7 linked regions of the Homo sapiens genome follow. The protein of the gene in region 5 purifies or fractionates together with the protein of the main gene of each other region. This does not show direct contact. Each region holds a gene or a part of one and is shown on either strand. Other genes may lie near its edges. The genes, in order: ZNF146, NFXL1, CNOT10, SLC30A9, KIAA0232, YME1L1 and OBI1.

What was found.
Region 1: the proteins of KIAA0232 (region 5) and ZNF146 purify together in Homo sapiens (affinity purification with mass spectrometry, with the first as the bait; one large-scale study listed by BioGRID). This does not show direct contact.
Region 2: the proteins of KIAA0232 (region 5) and NFXL1 purify together in Homo sapiens (affinity purification with mass spectrometry, with the first as the bait; one large-scale study listed by BioGRID). This does not show direct contact.
Region 3: the proteins of KIAA0232 (region 5) and CNOT10 purify together in Homo sapiens (affinity purification with mass spectrometry, with the first as the bait; one large-scale study listed by BioGRID). This does not show direct contact.
Region 4: the proteins of KIAA0232 (region 5) and SLC30A9 purify together in Homo sapiens (affinity purification with mass spectrometry, with the first as the bait; one large-scale study listed by BioGRID). This does not show direct contact.
Region 6: the proteins of KIAA0232 (region 5) and YME1L1 purify together in Homo sapiens (affinity purification with mass spectrometry, with the first as the bait; one large-scale study listed by BioGRID). This does not show direct contact.
Region 7: the proteins of KIAA0232 (region 5) and OBI1 purify together in Homo sapiens (affinity purification with mass spectrometry, with the first as the bait; one large-scale study listed by BioGRID). This does not show direct contact.

The regions. Positions count from the first base shown.
Region 1 is NC_000019.10:36,235,606-36,239,105, reverse strand, and holds the end of ZNF146 (zinc finger protein OZF), read right to left. Parts: exon of another isoform or gene 3,448-3,500; 5' UTR 2,666-3,447; coding exon 1,787-2,665; 3' UTR 338-1,786; downstream 1-337.
Region 2 is NC_000004.12:47,883,584-47,887,083, reverse strand, and holds part of NFXL1 (NF-X1-type zinc finger protein NFXL1), read left to right. Parts: intron 1-1,084; coding exon 1,085-1,205; intron 1,206-1,426; coding exon 1,427-1,586; intron 1,587-2,646; coding exon 2,647-2,738; intron 2,739-3,500.
Region 3 is NC_000003.12:32,705,688-32,709,187, reverse strand, and holds part of CNOT10 (CCR4-NOT transcription complex subunit 10), read right to left. Parts: intron 519-3,500; coding exon 368-518; intron 1-367. UniProt on the Homo sapiens protein: Component of the CCR4-NOT complex which is one of the major cellular mRNA deadenylases and is linked to various cellular processes including bulk mRNA degradation, miRNA-mediated repression, translational repression during translational initiation and general transcription regulation.
Region 4 is NC_000004.12:42,070,530-42,074,029, reverse strand, and holds part of SLC30A9 (proton-coupled zinc antiporter SLC30A9, mitochondrial), read right to left. Parts: coding exon 3,339-3,500; intron 1-3,338. UniProt on the Homo sapiens protein: Mitochondrial proton-coupled zinc ion antiporter mediating the export of zinc from the mitochondria and involved in zinc homeostasis, zinc mobilization as well as mitochondrial morphology and health.
Region 5 is NC_000004.12:6,880,227-6,883,726, forward strand, and holds part of KIAA0232 (uncharacterized protein KIAA0232), read left to right. Parts: intron 1-560; coding exon 561-740; 3' UTR 741-3,500.
Region 6 is NC_000010.11:27,144,385-27,147,884, forward strand, and holds part of YME1L1 (ATP-dependent zinc metalloprotease YME1L1), read right to left. Parts: intron 3,285-3,500; coding exon of another isoform or gene 3,114-3,284; intron 1,207-3,113; coding exon 1,044-1,206; intron 1-1,043. UniProt on the Homo sapiens protein: ATP-dependent metalloprotease that catalyzes the degradation of folded and unfolded proteins with a suitable degron sequence in the mitochondrial intermembrane region.
Region 7 is NC_000013.11:78,635,156-78,638,655, forward strand, and holds part of OBI1 (ORC ubiquitin ligase 1), read right to left. Parts: intron 44-3,500; coding exon 1-43. UniProt on the Homo sapiens protein: E3 ubiquitin ligase essential for DNA replication origin activation during S phase.

The sequences.
Region 1 (3,500 bases), on a different chromosome or scaffold from region 5:
TACCAGGGACCTGTTTCATGGAAGACAATTTTTCCACGGACGGTTTGTGGGGGTAGAAGAATGGGGATGGGATGTTTTCAGGATGAAACTGTTCCACCTCAGATCATCAGGCGTTACATTCTCATAAGAAGCGCACAACCTGGATTCCTCACATGCACAGTTCCCAATAGGGTTCGCGCTCCTATGAGAACTAATGCCACCGCTGATCTGGCAGGAGGTGGAGCTCAGGTGGCAATGCTCGCTCACCCGCCACTCACCTCCTGCCATGCAGCTGGGGGGAGCTGGGGACCCCGATATAGTGTGTATGCCATGTTAAAATAATTAAAACAGATTTGGATTGTGCTGTCCTTTTAAATTTTAATAAAATAGATTAATTTCATATTACATAGAGAGCAAGTCCATCCATTCATCCGTGATAAAATTTTAGAAATATTTTCTATAAAATGTTTAGTATTTAATTGGAAATGAATCCAGTATAACATGACTTCCACAGATACAGCATTCCCATCCTCACTCCCATTCCTATTTTGAGAAATTTTAAAAATACAGAAAAGTACAAAAAATAAGACAAGATATCCCTATACCACAATCCAGAATCAATCAGTATCTTCTTATATTTACTTGAAGTCTTTTGAAAGAGAAGTGGATGTTTATATAAAAAGCTGAAGTCCCCTTTAACCAATACCCATCCCACCTCCCACACTCATTATTTTCCCTTCTCCACTCTTCACAGGTGACCACTATCAAGAGTTTGGTCTGTATCCTTCCAATCCGTTTCAAAAACATGTACATACATATATGCATCCATTACCAATAGATAGTACTGAGTTTTATGAGGAAACTTTTAATTCAAATTTACAAAAAAGTCATTGTACTATCTGTATCATTCTGCAACTTGATCCCCCCTCAACAATTCTGGGATCTTTCTGTTAATACATGTGGATTTCATTTGTTGCATTTTACAGATATATAGTATTACATAAGAATTTCCCATATTGTTCGTGATGGGCTTTCTCAGTTGTTTCTAATTTTTGGCTACTACAAATCAAGCCACAGTAAATATCCTAGTGCGTATTTCCTGAGCATTCATACTCATAAGTAGAACCGCTAAGTATTTCTCAAATTGTTCCAAGGAATGTTTCCCTATTCCCAAGGTCATATGCATTTTAGTACATAGCTTTTCCATATTTCTGTTTTTAATCTCTGGATTCACTTTTGTGTATAGTTCATGGTCTATTTTTCCCCCTTGGAGAACAAACTACCTCCACTTAAAAAAAATAGTTCCATTATTTCCTCATTTCCTGATGCCACTTGTATCATATTCCAAATTCTAATAAATGCATAGGTCTTTTTTTGAAATCTCTTCTGCTCTGCTCAATCAATACCACAGGAGTCTTAATATTAGTTGTAGATGACCATGTCATCTATTTTTGTCTGTTCCTTTCCAATATTTACAACTTAATTTTTCTTGTTACTGGCGAAGATCTCCAGATCTATGGTGGTAGCAATAAAAAACAGGCCTCCATTTTCTGTTCCCACTTTTAGTGAAAATGTGCCTAAACTTTCACCATTATCTCTGCTGCAGGTTTCTCTGTTGGACACAGGGTTTTAATCATATGCATGTCTTTCTCTTCAGTACAAATTTTCTGGTGTCCCTTAAGTTTTTAGTACTTGTTAAAGTTAACCTCATTCGTGGTGCTTTGCTTCAGAAGGATTATTTCTGGGGCATGATGAGGTGCAAATTTCTAATGAAAGCTTTCCCACTTTCAAGGCTTTCATGGGGTTTTTAGTGAGTATGAATTTTCTGGTGTCTAATGTGGTGTGACTTCTGGCTGAAAGCTTTCCCACATTCACTGCACTGATAAGGCTTCTTACCTGTGTGTATTCTCAAATGCAGAGCAAGGGTTGAGAACTGAGAGAAAGCTTTCCCACATTCATTACAACCATAGGGCTTCTCCCCTGTATGGCTTCTCACATGCACAGTGAGAGATGAGCTCTGAGAGAAGGCTTTTCCACAAACATTGCATTCGTAAGGTTTATCACCTGAATGAATCCTCACATGTACAATAAGTGATGTTCGCTGAGAGAAGGCTTTTCCACATTCGTTACATTCATAGGGTTTCTCTCCAGTGTGAATGTTCTGATGTTTTATGAGGTACTTCTTCTGGCCAAAGGCTGTTCCACATTCACTACATTTAAAAGGCTTCTCTCCAATATGGATTTTCTCATGCTCAGTAAGGTTGGATTTGCCACTGAAGGTTTTTCCACACTCCTTACATACAAAGGGCTTCTCTCCTGTGTGAGTTCTCTGGTGTCTGATGAGGTTTGACTTCTGAATGAAAGCTTTCCCGCAATCTTTACACTCAAAAGGTTTTTCTCCAGTGTGAATTTTCTGGTGCGTAAGGAGGTTTTCCTTCTGGCTAAATGATTTTCCACATTCATTACATTCGAAAAGCTTCTCGCCAGTATGGGTGTTCTGATGTTTAATGACATACTGCTTTTGGCTAAAGGCTTTTCCACACTCGTTACATTCAAAAGGTTTCTCTCTCGTGTGAAAATGCTCATGCTCAGTGAGGTTTGATTTGTGGCTGAAGACTTTTCCACATACCTTACAGGCAAAGGGGTTTTCCCCACTGTAAATTCTCTGCTGGCTGAGGTGTGACATCTGAATGGAAGCTTTCCCACATTCACAAGGTTTCTCTCCAGTAAAAATTTCTTGATGAGTGAGGATTTACTTTTGGCTGAAGATATTTCCACATCTCTTACATTTATAAGGCTTCTCTGTGTATGATCTCCCAAATGCAGAGTAAGGGATAAGGTTTGAGAGGAAATGTTATCATACTCAGTATATTCAATGCTTTCTCTCTAGAAAAATTTTCTAATATTCAATGAAGTATTGCTACCTTCACTAGTTTCTCTCCAGCATGAATTTTCTGCTTCTCAATGAGATTGTCATCTAGCTAAGGGCTTGTCAATACTCCTTAGAAGCACAGGGTTTCTCTTCAGCATGACTTGCACGTTCGACGAAATGCAACATATGAGTAACAGTTCCCCCACATTCAGTAAATTCATAGGGTTTCTCTCCAGTATGAACACTCTGGTAACAGATGAGGTACAAACGTTTTAAACCAAAGACATTTACACTTAAAGGGGGTTAATACCATAAGGAGTAAGCTGTGGTAGAGAAGCTCCCAACTAAGTCCCTTGATGATTCTTTCCTACACAACCTCCCTCATGATTTCAGTCCAGGTTGTGTTTCAAACTGAAAACTTCAAAAAGGTGTGGCCTTAAAACAAATACGATCTGAGAACAGAGGAAGTATTTTTTCTTATATTCAACGCTCTTTTTCTCAGTCTTTCCTGGAGATGGATCAACATGCCTCCCAAGTCCTGGTGCCTCTCAAGTCCTGGTGCCTCTCTATCTGTGCATCATCTTCTCAGGCTTCTTCTAAAATGGAGTACAAAGAACCATAGCACAAAGGAGTTAAATTCATAAAGTGC
Region 2 (3,500 bases), about 41 Mb from region 5:
ACCCATAACAAAAGAGCGTAAAAAGCTGAAACCAAAATAACATTTTTTTTTATGTTTAGAAGAGAAATATTTGGGATTATATCCTAAAATGGTGGCTTAGTACTTAGTCTTTCACAAAGCACAATTAATGGAAAATTGACTGTGCTTGCTACTAACCAATATCAGGTCATGAGAAAGAAGTTATTGGGAATTCATCTAAAAATTGTGTACTTGGATAGATGTATGAAAGTAGGCCAACGATATTATTGTTAATGTTAAATTTTCCAAAGACTTAAATCCATTTTTGCTTGTTTTAGTTTTGAATGAGTAATGTGTTAAATTTGTTATTTAGAACAGAAGTTTTAGCACATTTTAGAGAAATGTCTAAAACTTTATGAGGTACCAGTGTACAGAGAAAAAAGTGTTATAAATCAGAGGCTGGGTGCAGTGGCTCACGCCTGTACACCCAGCATTTGGGAAGCTGAGGTGGGAAGATTGCTTGAGTCCAGGAGTTTGAGACCAGCCTGGATGACATAGTGAGACCCCTCCATCTCTATAAATAATCAAAAATTAGCTGGGCATGGTGGTGTGTGTCTGTAGTCCCAGCTACTTGGAAGGCTGACGTGGGAGGATTGCTTGAGCCCAGAAAGTTGAGGCTGCACTGAGCTGTGATCATGCAACAGCACTCAGCTTGAGCAACAGGTTGAGACCCTGTTACAAAAAAAAAAAGAGAAAAGTATTACAAATAAAAAGTATACAGCTTGTTGAATTTTTACAAACTGAACATAGCCAGGTAACCAAAACTTACATCATTAAACAGAACATGACCAAAATTTTCAACACCTTCCTTGCATCCTTCATAGCTATCACTCTGATTTTGAACAGTACATTTTTTCTTGTTTACTTTATATAAATGGAATCATGCACTATGTACTCCTTGTGTCTGGCTCAATGTTTTGTGGTAAGATTCATTCATGTTGTTGTAGTTTCTTCATTCTTGTTGTAGAGTATCCCATTGTGTGAATATACTAAATTTATGTATTTTACCATTAATAGGCATTTGGGTAGTTAAGGAAACTTTTTAATTGTCAGACTTTTTTTTCAGGCAGTTGCTATCCCTGCCCAGAAACCGTAGATGTGAAGTGTAATTGTGGCAATACAAAGGTGACAGTGCCCTGTGGCCGAGAACGTACCACAAGACCACCCAAGTGCAAGGAGCAATGCAGGTGAGTTTGAAGCTTTGCACAAGCTTCCATCTGATGTTGTACAAATTTAAATTCATATTGGCTTTTAATAATTTAATTTTGCTTTAGTGTTTTAAAATATTAATATTCACAGTATACTCATTCTATATGGAATCAGAAGATATGTAAATAGATAATTGTCCTTTAGATGTAATTATTCAATGACTAAAAGTAATTTTTGAAAATTGTACTTTATGATTTAGTCGACCACCAACTTGTCATCATACAAGTCAAGAAAAACATCGCTGTCACTTTGGTTCTTGTCCACCATGTCATCAACCTTGCCAAAAAGTTTTGGAGAAATGTGGTCACTTGTGTCCTGCTCCGTGTCATGATCAAGCATTAATAAAGCAGACTGGCAGGGTAAGGGAATAATACTATTAGAGAAATAGTGCATTGCTGTGGGTTGTACTTTCTTGCTTTTACTTAGTTTTTCAATGAGCAATGATTAAGCACTTATTGGGAAGCACTGTGCTTGGAGCAGGGTACAAGGTAATCAAGACTTGATTTTGTTTTAAGCAACTCACAGTGTAGGAAAGGAGTGAAACCATTGTTTGCAAATACAGTGTGATAGTTACATTATGATCATGATACAGGTGAATTTGGCAGTCCTCCTTCATATATTGTGGTTTAGGGTTATAGATATCTCCTATAATCTTATTTTAAAGATTTATTCACTTTTTAATATTTTATTTAATATTTATTTATTTTTAGTTATTTAATTTTTTTTTTTTTTGAGACGGAGTCTCACTCTGTTGCCCAGGCTGGAGTGCAGTGGTGTGATCTGGGTCACTGCAACCTCCACCTCCCGGGTTCAGTGACTCTCGTGCCTTAGCCTCCTGAGTAGCTGGGATTATAGGTGCCTGCTACCATGCCCAGCTAATTTTTGTAGTTTTAGTAGAGATGGGGTTTCAGCTTGTTGATCAGGCTGGTCTCGAACTCCTGACCTCAAGTGATCTGCCCGCCTCCGCCTCCCAAAGTGCTGGGATTACAGGTGTGAGGCACCACGTCCAGCCCAGCCTCATGAACATTTATTGAGCCCTTACTAAATATCAAGCTTTTTTTTAGGTGCTGAGGAACAACAGTGAGTAAAATGATGGAGATTATATTCAATTGCTAGATGTTGGAGTTTCCAATTGTTTTTCTCATTTCCTTATTGGAAGTAAAGGAGGCTACACTGCCTTTGTTCTACCATTTATAAACTGGATTCTGTCTCAGTTATTAATATCAAATGTCTGTGGAGAGGAACAATTTCATTTAATACAGATAAAATGAAATATTTCAGTAAGCACAATTTATTGATTATTTGAAAAAATTTCAACCTGCTTGAGCAGAGGATACATGGAACTATTTTCTTAGATTCTTAAAATGGCCATATGATTTAATCCCTCTGACTTAAAATTCTTATGTATTTTATTTGTAGCACCAGCCTACAGGCCCTTGGGAACAGCCTTCTGAGCCAGCATTTATTCAGACTGCATTACCGTGTCCTCCATGTCAAGTTCCTATTCCTATGTAAGTATTAGAATTTCAATTAAAAAAAAAAAACAAAAAACTTTTGACATAGCTTAAAGGGTATCTGAAGTCAATCTCCCTTTTTTCTTAGTTCAGTTCATTATTATTTCAGGCCTAGCCTATCAACTAGTGTGTCTGTCTTAACCTTCATTCTTTTCAAACATGTTTGTCATACTTGCATATAAACCTACTATAGATATCTTTTTTTGAGTCTTTACCCCCAGTTGGAGTTTGATGCCCTTCTTAGCTTTCCATAGCGAGTGCATGCAATTACAAAAACAAATCCAAGGAACATCATTTGTTACTTTTCCCGATGATTCCCATACTGGATTGTAAGCTCCCTGAAGACAGAAGAAAGCCAGGTTTTAGATAAGGCAAACTTGGGGAATATTTAAAGGAAGCCTTGGAAATGAGAGGAAGTAGTTTCCTGGATGGGCCAGTGAATGACTGGGACTGAGCTCTAAGGAGCTGAACCTACAGTAATACGGAATCCTGGAATTTTTTATACTTCCAGCAGAGGTTATGGAGTATAGGGGAAAAAGCACAGAATGCTGAGAAGCAACATAAAGTTAGAAAAGGGGCTGTTGTCTACAACTGAGGTGCCAAATTAAACATTGGTATTTCTGGTGTATTGGTCTTTTAAAGAGAGGATTGTTTTTGTTTTTTAATTCTAAAAGCTTTCATTTCCACAACATTCCTCCCAGTTGAAATAGCATGTATATTTTTGTGTATTGGTCACACAGTCAAGTTGGGAGGCAAAGT
Region 3 (3,500 bases), on a different chromosome or scaffold from region 5:
AGGGCAAAAATGAAATACCTCACTGTCCCCTAACATTCCAAAATGCTACTTCCTTAATGTACTAAAGTAAGAAAGGATCAGGTACACTAAAATAGTGTTGAAACAGCAAAAACCCCACAAACATCACTAAGTGTTTTCAGCACTTTCCAACAGCATTTTTAACAGTTATCTTCAAAATTTGGGAAGGGACACTCAAAGAAAACCTGGATTACATTTTTATCTTTTCTAACCATTAAGCAAAGCTGATACGGCTTTTCTTTGAATACTGGCATGGACTTCTCGGATTTAGGTTATCTAGGTAAAAGTACCAGAGAATTCTGCAAGTATAGGGAAGATAGGGAAATTTTTGACTTGACAGATAACATACCAAAAGGCTCTATGAACTGATAAAGTTTTTCACCAACTGATATGGCTTCTGTATACTGCCGCAGATGATAAAGAATGACTGCTTGATTATAGTACAACATGCTGTTTTCAACATCATCTAATCCATCCATTTCTTCAACAGCTGAGTGGACCTATAAAGCAATCAACAGAGGTTATATTTTAACATTAAGGAAATAAAAAGCAAAAGTGAAAGAATTCATATGAATAAAAAGGAACATAGGCCAACATTCTTATTCTGAATTTTTCCATACTTTCAACAGTATCTTTAGATTTTAATTACTCTCACATACTAAAAATTATTTTCATTCTTCTGTGCCACACATAATAAAATTTTAGGTAAAATGTTTTCATGAGACTTTATTAAGTACCCAGCACATGGCTAGACAATTATCTTCCTTGTCACTGTGAAGCTATCTTCCCTGTTTCAATTGGTAACACCACTTCTGAGTAGGATTCCCATCTCCTAGTCTCACAACCTACAAGAGGCTACACCAGGCGTGCAACAAACTCAAAATGACCTTTCCCATAAAAATGTCACGTAGTATTCATAGTTTGATTTCATTTTGTAAAAACTAAGGTAAAATTTAAACATTAATAATAGCTGGCCGGGCGTGGCAGCTCATGCCTGTAATCCCAGCACTTTGGGAGGCCGAGACAGGCAGATCACTTGAGGTCAGGAGTTTGAGACCAGCTTAGCCAACATGGTGAACCCCGTCTCTACTAAAAATACAAAATACAAAAAAAAAATTTAGCTGGGTGTGGTCGCACGTGCCTGTAGTCCCAGCTACTCGGGAGGCTGAGGGAGGAAACTTGCTTAAATCCAAAAGGCAGAGGCTGCAGTGAGCCAAGATCACATCACTGCACTCTAGCCTGAACAACACAGCGAGACTCTGTATCAAACAAAACAAAAATAGTTAACTATTTACCATGTGCCAGACTTGCTATGTTAAAACTTTTACAGGTTAATCCTCACCATACCTCAAGGTCATAGATAATTTTTTTTTTTTTGAGATGGAGTCACCCAGGCTGGAGTGCAGTGGCACGAACTCAGCTCAGTGTAACCTCCACCTCCAGGGTTCAAGTGATTCTCCTGCCTTAGCCTCCTGAGTAGCTCGGACTACAGGCATGCACCACAACACCTGGCTAATTTTGTATTTTTAGTAGAGATGGGGTTTCACCATGTTGGCCAGGCTGGTCTTGAACTCCTGACCTCAGGCGATCTGCCCACCTCGGCCTCCCAAAGTGCTTGGATTACAGGCATGAGCCACCGCACCTGGCCGAGGACATAGATAATTTCATTTCCACTTTATACATAAGGAAACCAGCACAGAAAACTTAATTATCTTGCCCAAGGCCATAGGGCTAGAAAGTATATTTTCAGGTTTCGTTCCCGTAAAAAAGAATAGATTTTTTTAAAGTACTCAATAATAAAAATATATTATTGCACACATGATGGTTAGAAAAGGCTTTTATGGGCTTCACTAAAGGCTAACATCTGTAACTGACACAAAAGAAAAAAAAAAAAGCATGACACTTTGCATTCTCAAACTGTATACCCCCTTATGTAAGCTGTAGCAATGGGCTTTTAAATTTTAATCAAGCTTTACAACCATTGCACAATTCCATGTAACACATGAAACTGGAAGTCTACTTGTATTAAAACTAACCTTTGCCATTATGAAGATTGCAATAAATTATTGTTCAATATTAAGTAATTAACTCTAAGACCAACACTTCCATAGAACTCTGATATACAGTACATGGATTTAACAGCCTTGGTTTGACTAATGGCAAGGAACCTGAAGGTTCACTACACACAATGAATTGTAAATTTTGTAACTGGACTTCAGCAGACGTCAACCACCCACGTGGTTAAGCTTGACATGGTTCAAATGTTAGCAAGTGGTCCTAGCTGACCAACATGTGCATCTCAATGAGTTTGGGAACTTTTTATAATCTTCACTTATCAAGTCACTATCTTAAAGAGATTAAAAACAGTATCTTCAAACAGTGAAAACTCAATTTCCAAAGGCAACTCTTTCTGTAGTTATGTAATGGAGAGAGACTGAGTTAAGAAGAGTTTAGCCAGAAAAGCTTTTAGATAAACTATGGCGTTTTGGATTCAGCAATGGTTGAATAATTATCACACAAATAACTTTGCCACATATTCTATGACTCACCAAAATAGTCTAGTAACTGCTCCAGCCAAAAGAAAAACTACTCATTAAGTGAAATTAGACGTTTGCTAATTAAAATGGAATAGGTTGAAAAGGTGTGTCACTGTGCCCGATGTGACTGCGAACAGAAGTATGATTTAAAGAAGTCAGTAACCACAAGTACAAACACTTCTAGGAAACTCAAGAGTTGGAAGGCCCTAACAAACCTTATAAACAATAAAAGCTAGTGAAAGAACTTCACAAAGTTTTTTTGGCCTAACTGGAAGTTTGCAGGAATTGCTTATTCAAAAAAAGTTTAAAGGCTGAACTTATTCTCAAAAACCAAACAAATTTGTCTTGGAAGAAACTGTCTATGGGGTCATAGGGTGCATGTACTAGATTATCAGTAAGCATCATCTTTCTTTTGATTCTGGAACACTAGATAAAATCATCAGTAATAATACTGGAGTAATGAGGAAACGTGAGGACATACAAATTTATGAAGACTGAGACAGGTAGGAGAACAGGCTCAAGAGTCAGAAGGCCTGGTTTAAATCTGTTCTTCCCCTTCCTAGTTGTGTAAATTTAAATTAGACTTCCTAAATTCTGGTTTTAAAACTGAGATAATAAGCACCTACTGCCTCAAGAGTTGAATGTGAGGATTATATGAGATAAGGCATAAAAGGCACTTAATACAGAATTTGGCACCCAGTATGCATTCAATAAATGGTAGCTATTATTCTCATTTTTGAATTTTAATGGGGTTTAAAAATTACTTTATGCCTATAAAGGATTACAGAGAGCCTGAAGGGACAACTTGCTTCTCTACCTGTGTCACACTTTAGGGTGATACTATAGAGTATCATGGTACTCATGATTACAGGAAAGGTCTCATGACTCCCTAACAGCATGAAGCAGTAACTAAAATTACAGGCTATAGAGTTAAATACAACTGAG
Region 4 (3,500 bases), about 35 Mb from region 5:
ATAAACACATTTCATTATTTGGCTGGTATGTGAGTAGCAACTAATAAATATATTTAGATATACTTTTTCCTTATGTTCTTACATATAACTAACTACAGACAGAAAACTGTTTGGAGGGCTCCCATATGATCAATCCCTGCCACCTATACGCAAGCCCTTGTGTGATCTCCTCTCACTGAATGTGGGCTATAACTACCAAATATGGCAAAGTGATGAGATGTCATTTCCAAGACCAGGTGACTAACCTGTGACTTTTGTCTTGTTCACACTCGCTCTCTATTGCCTTATCAATTTGCACGCTTTGATTAAGCAAGCTGCCATGTTGAAGAGGCCCATTTGGCAAGGAGCTAAATCTTGCGAACAATCATGTGAGTAAGGTTAGAAGCAGCCCCTTCCCCAGGAGATGACTATAATCCCAGTCAACACCTTGATTACAGTCTATGAGAAACCCTGAAGTCGAAGACCCAGATAAGCTGTGCCCTGATTCCTGACTCACAGAAACTGTAAGATGGTAATATGTTGTTTAAACCACTAAGTTTTGGGCCAATTTGTCACACAGCAGTAGGTAACTAATATACTGTTTAAAAAAATTGTATGAATTTTCTGGATTACTAACGTATTTTTTCCAATAATTGAATCCACAGATATTCACTCTTCCACAAAATTTCGAATTTGCCAGTCTTTCAGTTTATAGCTCTTTTTTAGACATTACTTATTAAACAATATATACAAAATTATAAACATGTATGTAGCAACAACAGAGCACCAAAATATATGATGCCAAAACCAAGAAGAAATGAAGGGAGGAAGAGCTAATACAACAACAATAACTAGAGACTTCGATACTTTCAGTAACGGATACAGAGGCCGGGCACGGTGCTCACACCTAGCACTTTGGGAGACCGAGGCGGGTGGATCACCTGAGGTCAGGAGTTTGAGACCAGCCTGGCCAACATGGCCAGTGATGAAACCTCGTCTCTCAGGAGTTTGAGACCAGCCTGGCCAACATGGCCAGTGGTGAAACCTCGTCTCTACTAAAAATACAAAAATTAGCTGGTCATGGTGGTGAGCACCTGTAATCCCAGCTACTTGGGAGGGTAAGGCAGGAGAATCACTTGAATCTGGGAGGCGGAGGTTCCAGTGAGCCAAGATCGTGCCACTGCACTCCAGCCTGGGCAACAAGAACAAAACTCCATCTAAAAAAAAAAAAAAAAAAAGGATAGAACAATAGAGCAAGAAGATAATTAGGGAAATTGAAGTCACTATAAACCAATTAAACCTAACAAACATCTACAGAACACTCTACAACAACAGCAGAATATACATTCTTCTCAAGTGCACATGAATATTATCCAAGACTATATGTAAGGCCATAAAACAAACCTTGGTAAATTTAAAAGGACAGAACTAATATAAAACATATTCTTTGACCACAATAGAACAAAATAATAAATCAATAATGGAAAGAAATCTGTGCAACTCACAAATACGTAAAAATTAAGTGACATACTCCCCTAAATAACTGAAAAGAATAAAAAAAGAAATTAGAAAATACTATTAGATAATGAAAATGGCACAATATATGGAAATGTGTGGAATGCAGAGAAAGCAATACTTAAAGGAAAATTTGTAGCTGTAATTGTCTATTTTAAAAAAGAAGAAACATCAAATTAAAAGCTTAACCTTAAGACAGTGGAAAAAGAGCAAACTAAACTGAAAGCACGCAGAAGGAAAAAAATAATAAAGATTAAAGGAGAAAGTCATGAAAAAGAAAATAGAAAAACAACAGAGAAAGTCAATTAAACCAAAAGCTGGTTCTTTAGAAAGATCAAGAAAATGAACAAACCTTTAGCTACACTGACCAAGAAAAGGAGAGATTCAAATTACAGAAATGAAAGATGAGACATTTGTACCAACACTAAAGAAATAAAATGGATTACAAAGGAATATTATAAATAGCTGTATACCAACAAATTAGGTAAATTAGAAGTAAAAGACAAATTCCTAGAATACAAGCTACTTAAACTAAGTCAAGAAGAAACAGACAATCTGAACAGATCCATAACAAGAGATATAATTACTAATCAAAAAACTACCCACACAGCAAAGCTCATATCCAGATACTTGAATTCTACCATTTAAAGAAGCTAACACCAATTATTCACAAACTCTTCCAAAAAAATAGGAGAGAACATTTCCCAACTCATTCTCTGAAGCCAGTATTATCTTAATACCAAAACCAGACAAAAACATCACAAAGAAAGGATATTAATTTGGATTATCTCACATTATGTTAATAACTCTAATACTGACTTTCATAATGCTCAACTTCTAATCTTTTTTTTTTTTTTTTTGAGACAGGGTTTTGCTATGCTGCCCAGAATATAGTACAGTGAGTGGCTATTCACAGACATGATCATTGCACACTAGCCTCAAACTCGTGGCCTCAAGTGATCCTCCTGCCTCAGCTTCCCAAGTAGCTGGAACTATAGGCATGTGCCACTGTGCCCATCTCTCATTTTCTAATCTTGTTCCAATAAGATAGTTACTTTTCAAGATTAAACATATAGGGCATAGAATATAAATCTAGTAATCATTAATATATTTTACTAATTCAGATATACGGGTCATTTTAAAAAGATTTAACTTAAAGATTTCAAGTACAATACACAAAAAAATCTTATTTTAAAGTTTGAAAAAATATAGAGCGAGTTAGTAGAAAACTGGGTTTTTAAAGGTTTGTTCTTTTATTTCATTATAAAACCACAATGCTGCTAGAATTTCACTGAAAAGCACTATTAGAATTCTGTATCTCTTCTGCTGATTATCTCCTAAGTCTCCAGTTCTTTAGTTTTACATAATTTAAAAGATAAAGATTATAAGAAAAATACTTAAAATAAGCTAAAACAAAGTCTATTTTCAAAGTAAATATAAATTATATTTAATTTGGTAATCATTGCCCAATGAACAAAAATCTTTTTAAATTTAATATATTCAATTTGTAATTGCAATGCGAATATAAGGCAACTCTACAGGTTCCATATTAAGTATTTCCACTAAGAAGACAACTACTTTGCAAACTTCCATTCTCATTATATCAACTTGACTCTTCCTTACTCTAAAAATTAGAAGTATAGAAAATTTAAAAGGAAACTTAGAAGGAGTTTCCTAAGTGTATTCTTTCTTACTTCCAGGATTATAATTCTGAAAAGTTACAGACTAAAACGTTCTGAAGACGAGGAATCCAAAACTTCCTCTGGAAGTATTTACAAACCAGGCATTTCTGTTTTTTAATATGTTTTTGTAAGCCTTAACAGGATTACTGGAATAAGGCTGACCTTACTGATGGGTCATTCTCCAGGAGTTCAGTGAGCCGTTGTACTTGTTCTGGCTGGATGGACCGCCCTAAGAGTGCTTCTGTGTTAGTGTAGATGAGGAATGCTGAGACCATGCCTAATAAGGTGCCCACACCCAAAGAACCTAGGCTGTCATACAGTGGA
Region 5 (3,500 bases):
CCCTTCCCAACACAGAGGTCTGCAGTGTCCCCTCACCATCTGTACTGTGTCACTGCAAACTCCCTTCCCAACACACAGGTCTGTAGTGTCGCCTCACCATCTGTACTGTGTCACTGCAAACTCCCTTCCCAACACACCCGTCTGCAGTGCCCCCCTCACCATCGGTACTGTGTCACTGCAACTGGCACATGTTGGTTTGCTCGTTCATCTCCCCAGCGAGCCTGGCATGCGCCTTCCACTGCTGGAGTCCCTGTGCCCAGTAAAGTTCCTGGTGCATAGCAGGTACTCAAAGACTTTGAAAATGAAATAATTCTTTATCCTACCCTAACATGGCTAACATTTTGTCCAAGTGACTGAACATGTGGAATTAGGATTTTGGATCCTTCATGGATCAGAGAAGAGAGGCGGTTTTGCTCTGAAACAGTAAAACTCTGCATGTTTGTAACTCCACAGGAAAACACTGATGATTTATTATTTCTTCTTTGTATATAGATAGAGTATCTCACCCTTTTGGGGAAAAAAAAGTCTTTTTGATGTGTTGAAAATTGTTTTAATCTTAGGTGTCTTCTGTTTATGAAGCAAGATGTACAGGAGAGAGAGATTCTGGAGCAAAGTCAGATGGCTTCCGCGGAAAGATGTGCTCCAGCGCCAGCTCCACCTCGGAAGAGACAGGCTCAGAAGGCGGAGGCGAGTGGGTGGGCCCTAGTGAAGAGGAGCTCTTTTCTCGAACTCATCTCTAAACCTGCAAAATAGTACAAATTATTGTTTAAAAATGATATGTGATGGAAAATTACTCTTCAGTGAGACCTGTTAATCTAAAACAACAACTTAGGTTTCCTCTTCAATTAACTGATTCAGATTGGTAATAATTATCTTTCTCTTCTTGCTTATTTTAGAGTTGAGGACAGCTATCCTGTTAAAGATTTTTTTTCCCAGCTGTTAAATTCTTGGCTATTTGAAATAGACTAGATTGTGTTGTCAAATCAAGAATGGGTGTGCATGTGCTTGTCTTAGAAGTATCACTGCTTTTTGCATCTTAACTGCAGTTAATTTTCCTTCCGACTGCGGTTATATCACTATGACCTTACTAGCATTGCAGTGTCAACAACCACTTCTGCTCTTCAGAGACTTCAGCTTTGGAGCATTTAGGCTTTGTTCTCCAAGAACTGGGATATCCATTCTTACCCTACAGTGGCTTGATGCCTTTCTGAAGGCGAGAGGGAAGCCTGGGTGACTCAGCGGTGGTCTCCATTCAGCAAAATCTCATGTACATTTCCAGTAGGAACCGCAGAGGTGTGCTTTTCAAGACTCACCAAATACTGTGTTTTCTCTCTTAGGATTTCTTTTCCCCTAAAGTATCACGGAAGATACTATGGTTCGTGACTTTCTTGCTAACTGAAGAAGCCAAGGATTTGGGGTGTGGGGTCGTATGCGAGACACAGTGGGGTAAGGGTGCATACCCCACCCCTTACCTGCTCTCATACTGCAGTTACATTTACACCAAAACCCCATGCAGGGTTCTTTGTGGTGAGTGTTCCATACGTGCTAAGGACCTTAGTTACAGATTGTTACTTTCTGGTGACCTATGTTGAATTGAAACCCCCAAAACTTGAAATTGTGAACATTTGACATGCAGTAAAGGCCACCTCATCACCCAGAGAAATCTTTGGCTGCTGCAGCTAGCCGCTTCTTGGCTGTGATGTAGTATAGCTTCGATCTCATTTTGTGTTTGAGAGAATGTTCTGGGCAAGTTCTGTGTGTGGTGGGTTGGGGCGGGTAGAGTCATGAGTTTTCCACATCCCTGTGTGGTGGTTTTGCTGACTGTCGCTCCGTGGGACTGGCTCCCGTTTCTCCTTGGTGAGCCCGGGGAGCCGGCGCATCTTGTGAGTCGCGTCTGTGCATGGCGATCCGCTCCTCCGGCTCTCATGGCATTGTGCCACAGGCAGAGGCCAGGAGGAGCAGTATGTGCACAGCCGAAACATTTTACATTTTTTACATTGTTTTTCTTTTTTAACCAACTCATTGTTTAAAAAACAAAAACAAAAAAAACCTAATCTGTGAAATCAGCGTAGCATGCCTGGAGCATCAGGAATGGCAGAAAAGTCTGATGCGCTCTAGACAGCTTCACCACTCATTTGGGCAGGCAGTAAACACACATATAATTTATTAGCTGGGAGCTGAACTGGCTGTGAAATCTATGATTTGCTTTGAACATTTGGGTTTTGTTGCCTTTTTCTTAATTGATAACACAGAAAAGAAAGTACCATCAAAGACTGTGGAGTCATTGAGGGTCTGTGTGTCCTCACCGAGAGGGACCTGGTGTGCCCGCCGGGTCGATCTTCCCACGTGTTAGGGTTTATTTTTATACAACACATTTTTTGACACTTTAAGGTGGGTGGGTGTGTGTGTGTGTGTGTGTGTGCGCGCGTGCGCGCGCGCATGTGTAAGGTTTTATGTTGCTGTTATTTATTTACGAACTTCAGATACGTTTTTATGTATTTTTCATTCTTCTGGAGCTTCCTAAAAATTGATAAGCATCTGCACTGAAATATAATTTAACAGCAAAAGTAAAAAAGGATTGAAAGTTGTAAATTCCTCATATCACTACAGTGACGATTATTCTAGAAATCGTTGCTTGTGTAGCAAAGACCAAATAAATAGATTTCAGACACAACCTTGAGCACAGTTGATTTTGGACAGCTGCTGTTTATTAGGAAAGGGCTCCAGGTGGCAAAGGTGCACACTTCCTCAGACACAGGTGAGAAGATGCAGCACCTTCCACAGGTGAATGGGACGGATTCGAAGTGAGCAAAGGGATTCACAAATTATGTATTTATTTGTTTTCATAGTTAAGTAGCTGAAGCTCAGAGGCTTTCAGCAACAGAGATGAAAGTGTGGCTTTTTAGTTTTGTGAATGGATGATCACAAAGAAAAAGCATTTTTAAAAAGTTGGCAAACGCTGAAACGCACTGTGGTATGAAGCGCATTGCATTTCCATAGCACTGAAGTACCAGTTTCCATTCCTGGGCTGAGATTGTTTTTCCCGTGGTTGTATTGTTCTGATTTCACGTACACCAGAGTAACTGATTTTTTTTTGTTTGTTTTCTTGTGGAGTTAACACCAAATAAAAATTGTAAAAAACAGTTTGTTGTTTTTATTTCTCATAGCAAAGCTTCTTTTGTAAAGAACTCCAGCTTCCTTTTACTCATGAGCATCCGTGGAAGAGCAAGTGCCCAGGTTACATTTGTTCTAGATGGAGGTCATTTAGCTCTCATTGCAGACACTGCTGAAAACATTGTGCAGCTTTGCTAGGGAAGAAAGTGGTGTGGCCTGCTGAGAAATCAGCGGCTCCTCCCCATCTCACCCCCAGCACACGCAGGGACTACTACCTGAGTCTGCAAAACACATAGCATTTTTGTCCGTGGATGGTACACAAAGCTCAATCTTTTTGTTTTCTTCTGGGGAAAAAATTAAATCTTTATATGTTAATATGATTGATA
Region 6 (3,500 bases), on a different chromosome or scaffold from region 5:
GTCAAGAATTAATGAATTAAGTTTATGCAAAGGACAGCTTCAAATCAAACCTTCATTATAAACTAGTCAAACCTGCTATTTTGTTCCTGGATTTTTATGGCCTGTTTAAGTGCCATCCAAAGAAAAACTCATAAAGTTGACATCCCTTTTCAGACTAGTATGAACCCACTTATTATACTACCATACTGTTATGAGATTCAAGTAAAAAAAAATGTAGACATTCCACAAAAGGGATAACAACTGTTTTTTTAATCAATGTATTCTCAAAGATTAAGTATGTTTCCTGGAATTAAATGTGTGTCACCTAAAATTAAAACAAACAACGCCCCCCCATTCTGCTAAATGCAATGTGGTATGCTGGATCAGATCCTGGAAAAGAAAAAGGACACTTGCAGAGAACTAGTGATTTGGTGAAAACAAATTTTGTTGAAATTCAAATAGTCTGTAGTTTAGTTAAAAATAAGGTACCAATGTTAGGCCTGCACGGTGGCTCACGCCTATAATCCCAGCACTTTGGGAGGCTGAGGAGGGTGGATCACGAGGTCAGGAGATCAAGATCATCCTGGCTAACACGGTGAAACCCCATCTCTACTAAAAATACAAAAAATTAGCCGGGCGTGGTGGCGGGCGCCTGTAGTCCCAGCTACTTGGGAGGCCGAGGCAAGAGAATGGTGTGAACCCGGGAGGCGGAGCTTGCAGTGAGCGGAGATTGTGCCACTGCACTCCAGCCTGGCTGACAGAAGGAGACTCCGTCTCAAAAAAAAAATTATTGTACCAATGTTAATTTCCTAGTTTTAACAAATGTAACATGATTATGTAAGATGCCAAAATTAGTGGAAGCAAAATTCTGTACTATCTTTGCAACTTTCCTGTAAATCTGGTACTATTTCAATATGAAAAATTGCAAAAAAAAAAACAAAAAAAAAACACTTCAGGAAAGAACCCAGCCCACAATAAACGCTACTGTGAAAGCTAAGAAATGGTATCTATAATTATTAATAGTGCTAAAATATTTAATTGGAACAAAAAACACATTAACATACCATATTTATTTTCAAAGAAGGATTGTGCAGAGACATGGGATGTATGCCAATGGGAAGAAATGTTTTTGCCTTTACAAAATCCAGGAAGTAGATTTTCTACCAGCTGATCAATCTGTCCAATTTTTAGTTCAGATAATCCAAGGTCCCTTAAGTTAAGTGAAGGCTGTAAAAGATTGGGTCAACCAGGTATGCATTAATATTATCAAGATATTTAACCTAAGGAGTACATATTATCAGTTAAAACAATCAGATTTTAAAAGTCTAACAAATATATTTCCTTTTTTTAATATTTAAAAATAAATTGATGCAAATATTTTCACAGTTCGTTTTACTGAGATCAGTCATATGAGGTTTGACATAGGTTAAAAAATTATATTCCTAATGGTATCCTTAAATAAAGAGATGACATTTCAGCATGAATGAGAAAAACTTTTTTTTTTTTTAAATCAAACCCAAACCACTACTGTCCTAAGCATTATGGTTCACAGAATCAAGTGAAATGTATGGCATTTTTTCCTTCTCTCCATACAAGGGTACTCTGATCAAGAGCTAGTCTATCAACTATTGATCAAGCATTTATAATGACAAGAGTGTAAGAGTAACTAACTGCAGGGTTACAAAGTATGTTATATAAGGTCCAGGGGATTTTCCCCAACAGTGTAGAACTGATTGGAGGATAATAGTAAGGTTCTTGAATTGGGGAAATTCCATTCAAATGATAATCCTCACCAGTCCATGGAGCTTTTAAGCCCCTAAGCAGCCATAAACAAAAGCCCACTTGACAAAGAAATGGTATGCTTGGTTACCATAGGACATCTCACTCCTCTGGCCTCATTGCTTAGATCCTTCCTTGAACTCAGAGGTTCTAAAGTTACCCATATCTTCTAATAAAGAAGAAAATTAAAGTCAAAACTGTGTGAAAATCAGGCAAAAAAGTCTAAAAATCACAAAAATGTGTGTATACCCACTTTTAAACAACAGGATAGGGATTATTTTCTTGTCCACATGAGCTGAAAGAGAGGCACTTAAAGGCAAGTAACAATTACATGTTACTCAAACCCAAAACAGCTAAGGTGGGAAGATCGTTTGAGGCCAGGAGTTTGAGACCAGCCTGAGCAACATGGTAAGACATCATCTTGATGAAAAATTTAAAAATTAGCTGGGCATGGTGGTATGCACCCGCAGCACCAGCTACTCAGGAGAAATGTTTGAGCCCAGGAGCTGGAGGTTGCAGTGAGCTATGACAGCATCACTGCACTTCAGCCTGGGCTACAAAGGGGAGACCCTGTCTCTAAAAATAAAGTTTTTTTTAAAAGAGGCATGGACACGGATTATATAGCTCTGGACTGATGTCTGGGAATACGGTACTTTTTAAATTAGCTATAACTCATATTCTTAGAATTCATTTTCTCAATACTAACATAACTATAAAATACACCTTATTTCCTAATAGTAAGGATCAAAGGCAGAGATCATGCCTTACTCATCTACGTATCCTAGCATACAACATGACAGCACATAGTAAAAGACAGTTAAAGGCATGATGAAATAAAATACTTAAAAGTACTTTTTAAGCTATTAAAAATGATCAAGGCGGCTTAGGGACGGGGGCAAACAAAAAGCCATCCAAGGGTCTGGAATATCTCAAAAAATTCAAGGAAAGAAAAAATTAAAGAGATAGGTTATGGCCAAACTGTGAAGAGCCATGTTTGAATTTAATTCTCTAAGTAACATGATTAGTTCTGTCTTATAGAAGAAAATGGAGAACTAAGGAAGATAGACTGGCCTAGCATGGTGGCTCGAGCCTGTAATCCCAACACTTTTGAGAGGCTGAGGTGGGAGGACTGCTTCAGGCCAGGAGTTCGAGATCAGCCTGGTGAAGAAAGCAAGACCCTGTCTTTACAAAAAATTTAAAAATGATAAAACAAACAAACAAAGAAACTAGACTGGATGAGAGAGAAGGCTGATGGAACAAGTGAAAGATGGCAAGAACCTGAACTAAGCCGTGACTAAGAACGATGGACAAAACAAATCATAGACAATAGGCATTTGGAGAAACCCGCAGTGTACAGGGATTGAGAGGGAGAAGGGTTCTGGACGGATGTGCCAGTTATCGGTTGTGTCCAAGCTCTTCTTCATCCTTTTTGCTGGCTCCATGAACATGGATCTGTACCCTTCGAATATTTTTCCTTTGCCAATTGAAACAATGTTAAGCTTCGTCAGGAAGTCACTGAACATACACTGTAGGAAGAGAGGTTTTGATTCCTGGTTGTGGTATGCTCATTTAGCAAGTTCCTGTCTGTAACACCCGTGGTTTCTATAGCATCTGGCTCCTGTCAATTGTGCAGTTTCACCAAACCCTGGCTCCTGGCGTGCACAATGGCCAGCAGGACCTAGCAGCTTCCCCTGGCACCACTCGTGTAACAGCTTCTCTAGTAGGACACATCCCCAGGAACA
Region 7 (3,500 bases), on a different chromosome or scaffold from region 5:
CCCTCACCAGACCACCATTTTCCAATTTCAATTTTTTATTTGCCTAAAATAACAAATTGAAAATAAGTAAGCAAAAGCTACAATAAAAGTGACTTGTAAAAATTACAACATGAGCCATCCGTATTTTTTAGAGTGATAATATCAGAAAACTGAATAGTAGAACATGGCCTTCAGAAACTTAAAATCACTACTGGGAATGACTTCAGAAACTGAATACTACTGAGCATTTTAAAACCATATTCCCCAAGCACTTTGCAAATCTCCTGTCCAGGGAAATAAACAAAACTATGTTAGTTAGCTTAGAGTCATTAAGGGACCATACTAATGGCAAATGTATGTGTGATTTTTTTTCTTTTTCACATAACTGAATATTCTAGGCAAGGTAACATTATACCACATGCAATATCGGCAAACTAATGCTGAAGAGTTAATTCTTGAGCTTTGAAATTGATTTCTGGGGTGCTGTTTAAAAATTTTTTTCTAGTGATAACAAATCTAATATGATTTAACCACTTGATTTTTTCTCTTCAAAAAGGCTTTTCCAACGTTCTGGCTCACAACTTCTAGGGCCCTCAAAATTGGATCTATCTATCTATCTATCTATGTATCTATTTATCTATATTTTTTGAAAGAGTCTTGCTCAGTTGCCCAGGCTGGAGTGTAGTGGTGTGATCTTGGCTCACTGCAACCTCCACCTCCAGGGTTCAGGTGATTCTCCTGTCTCAGCCTCCCGAAGAGCTGGGACTACAGGCATGTGCCACCATGCCCAGCTAATTTTTGTATTTTAAGTAGAGACAGGGTTTTGCCACAGTGGCCAGGCTGGTCTTGAACTTTTGGCCTCAAGTGATCCACCTGCCCCAGCCTCACAAAGTGTTAGGATTACAGGTATGAGCCACTTGCCAGGCCTGGATCAGTATTTTCTAATAAATTCTATGAATTGTTCTTCGATTAAAAAAAAAATCCTTCCAAGTATGATTTTCTTTCTTGAATTGTATAACACCTAAAAATTACCTAACAGGACACCAATTGCTAGAAAATCTAGAGGCTCAACACTGATTCTGGACACACTGAAAACTAGTGTGCTTAAATTTTAGAGTCTTCTTAGAAGCTACTTCCTTTAAATTCCCTACTCATTGCTTTTATGTATTACAAAGAAAAATAACACTCCCTAGACTAGAAACCAACCTCACTAACCTGGGAAAGGGAAATTCTTTGACCAGAACATTTACATTTAAAGTGAATGGGTCACAAGAATAACTGTCACCAAAAAAGGTTTAAACCAAGAAGCCTTTAAAACGTATTTCAAAAATTTGGCTATTACTTAGATGAATTTCAAGAACTTCTGACTGTATTACTTACTTACCCACATAAGCTGCAGCACAAGGATCACAGAAGAAATAAGGTAGAGAACATTATTTGGGGGCATAAAGTCTAACTCCCTGACTTAGACCCATCCAGGTTCCCTCTGGGCTCTAGGCACCTGCTTATCTTCATGAATGCACACCAACCAGGACTGTGGAGAGTTAATTCTTTAAGTGACTGATAAACACCATTACTGCTTCTCTGAAGATATAAGGAAAGCCATTTACTTCCTCATATATGCAGACAATGAATTAAGCTCTCAAGCACAGCACCATAAGGGGAGGCATTTAGTGAATGCTTTTTGATGATGATGACAAGCTTAAATTAGAAACTCATTTGATTTCCTTTCCCCTTCCCTGCCCCCCACCACTACTGTATGGCTATGTTTCAGTCTCTCAACAGTCCTTTGACTCTCTAATACTTCTCATTATAGGCTGGCTAGTTCCTCAACTATCAGAGATCTTTTCAAGTTCAAGAAGGTTAGGTGAATAAAAGTTATGAAGGGCAGAGTTCTGCCTACCTTTTGCACCTAAAAGAATAATGAATATTTCAGCTAACCCTTCTGCATTCTCAACACTGATTGGGTAATGACACTGGCCTCACGATGGTTCAAAACTCACCCATTCCAGGTAACATCAGAAAAAAAGTCCACTTCATTCATGCTAAGTAATCCTTTATTCTGAATCTTTTGTATTCCTGTATTTGATTATGTTGAGTATGTTATTACTCCACACTTTAGTTTTTATCTCTGCAGTCCATGTTTTTTCATTCACTTATGTCCCAGTTTATAACCTATTACCTACTAGCATCACTAGGCATAGAAAATGGGCTTATTCAATATCCCAAAGAATTCTGAAGTCCCAGGGTAGCTTTGAGTATTGAATTTAACATTTGACCATTAAAAGAGCAAAGGAAAATTAACTGTGCTTTATGTATTCTTCTTTAATATCCATCCCTCATATCACCCTTATAAGCCTCATGTTCTAAGAAATATTTACTGCCAAAACTTTAAACGAAGTTTAATAACTACAAAGGAGATCATATAGTGCTTACCAATGGCTCAAGAAGAACCAGGGAAATTAAAGGGAACAAGGCAAATTGATAAATACTGTAATTTCCGAGTTGGCATTCCTTTTAGTATCCTATTGTCTTCTAACAAATCAAGGTACTAACACTGGTCATCAATACCCAAAGAAACTATGCACTTCTCCCTCCTACACACTTATAACAAACTCAGTACAATTATGTCTGTAGTTTCTTTTTTATCTAAAAGCACTAGGCTCTCTCTTCTCCTCACCCTGGCCTTTTCTGAGCCCAAACAACATTTATTTTATATGTGGAAGATGGCTTACATCTAAGTTGCAAGTATTTCTCTGCTACTTAACCTGAGGACCTGAGAGCCAATATACAGGGGAACTCCTTTAAAATACCATATGGAGCTCATTAATAATTTTGAGAGATAAGATTTAGTAATTTCACACAGGAATAGTATTTTAAGGAAATGCAAATAGTTGAATATGTGATTGTAGAACTGAGTACTACAAAGCCATCTCCTTTCAGCACAAGAGGACTCCACTGTGGATAAACTTGAACTCAAGCTAAAGGCTGATCACTTGGGTCAAGATGGTGTTGTAGGAGTTGCCTGTAACATCTAGTGCTGATGGCATGGATCTTATCTCCCTTTCTAGGCCGAAAAATCCTAGAGGTTTGCCTTTTTCACCATGCTGTATCTCGTTCAAAGAAAAACTGAAAAAAATGAACCAGTTTCATAAATCACAACATTCTTTTGCATGAGGTACTCTGAAGCAGCTGCTTATTGCTGTCCTGGAATTAGTCACCAAGTCTTTATCTATCTACAATCTTAAAAATAAGAGAGTGGTAGCAAAAGAAAAGATAAGGTCAAAACTTTTCCTTTCATTGGTGCGAAAATGGTTATGTGTTTGTTTTTAGGTACACAGGGGAAGTCGCTGATATAAGCTTAAAAAACCTATGGCAAACCACAAAGAGGACGAAACAGAAACACATCCTTTAAATTGGTATTATTCTTCTAGAAGAAGATGCAATCTTATACAGAAGCACAACAGTCTCTAATTATAGTCACACATGGAACCACCTGATATTTCTTGGCAGTTAATGAT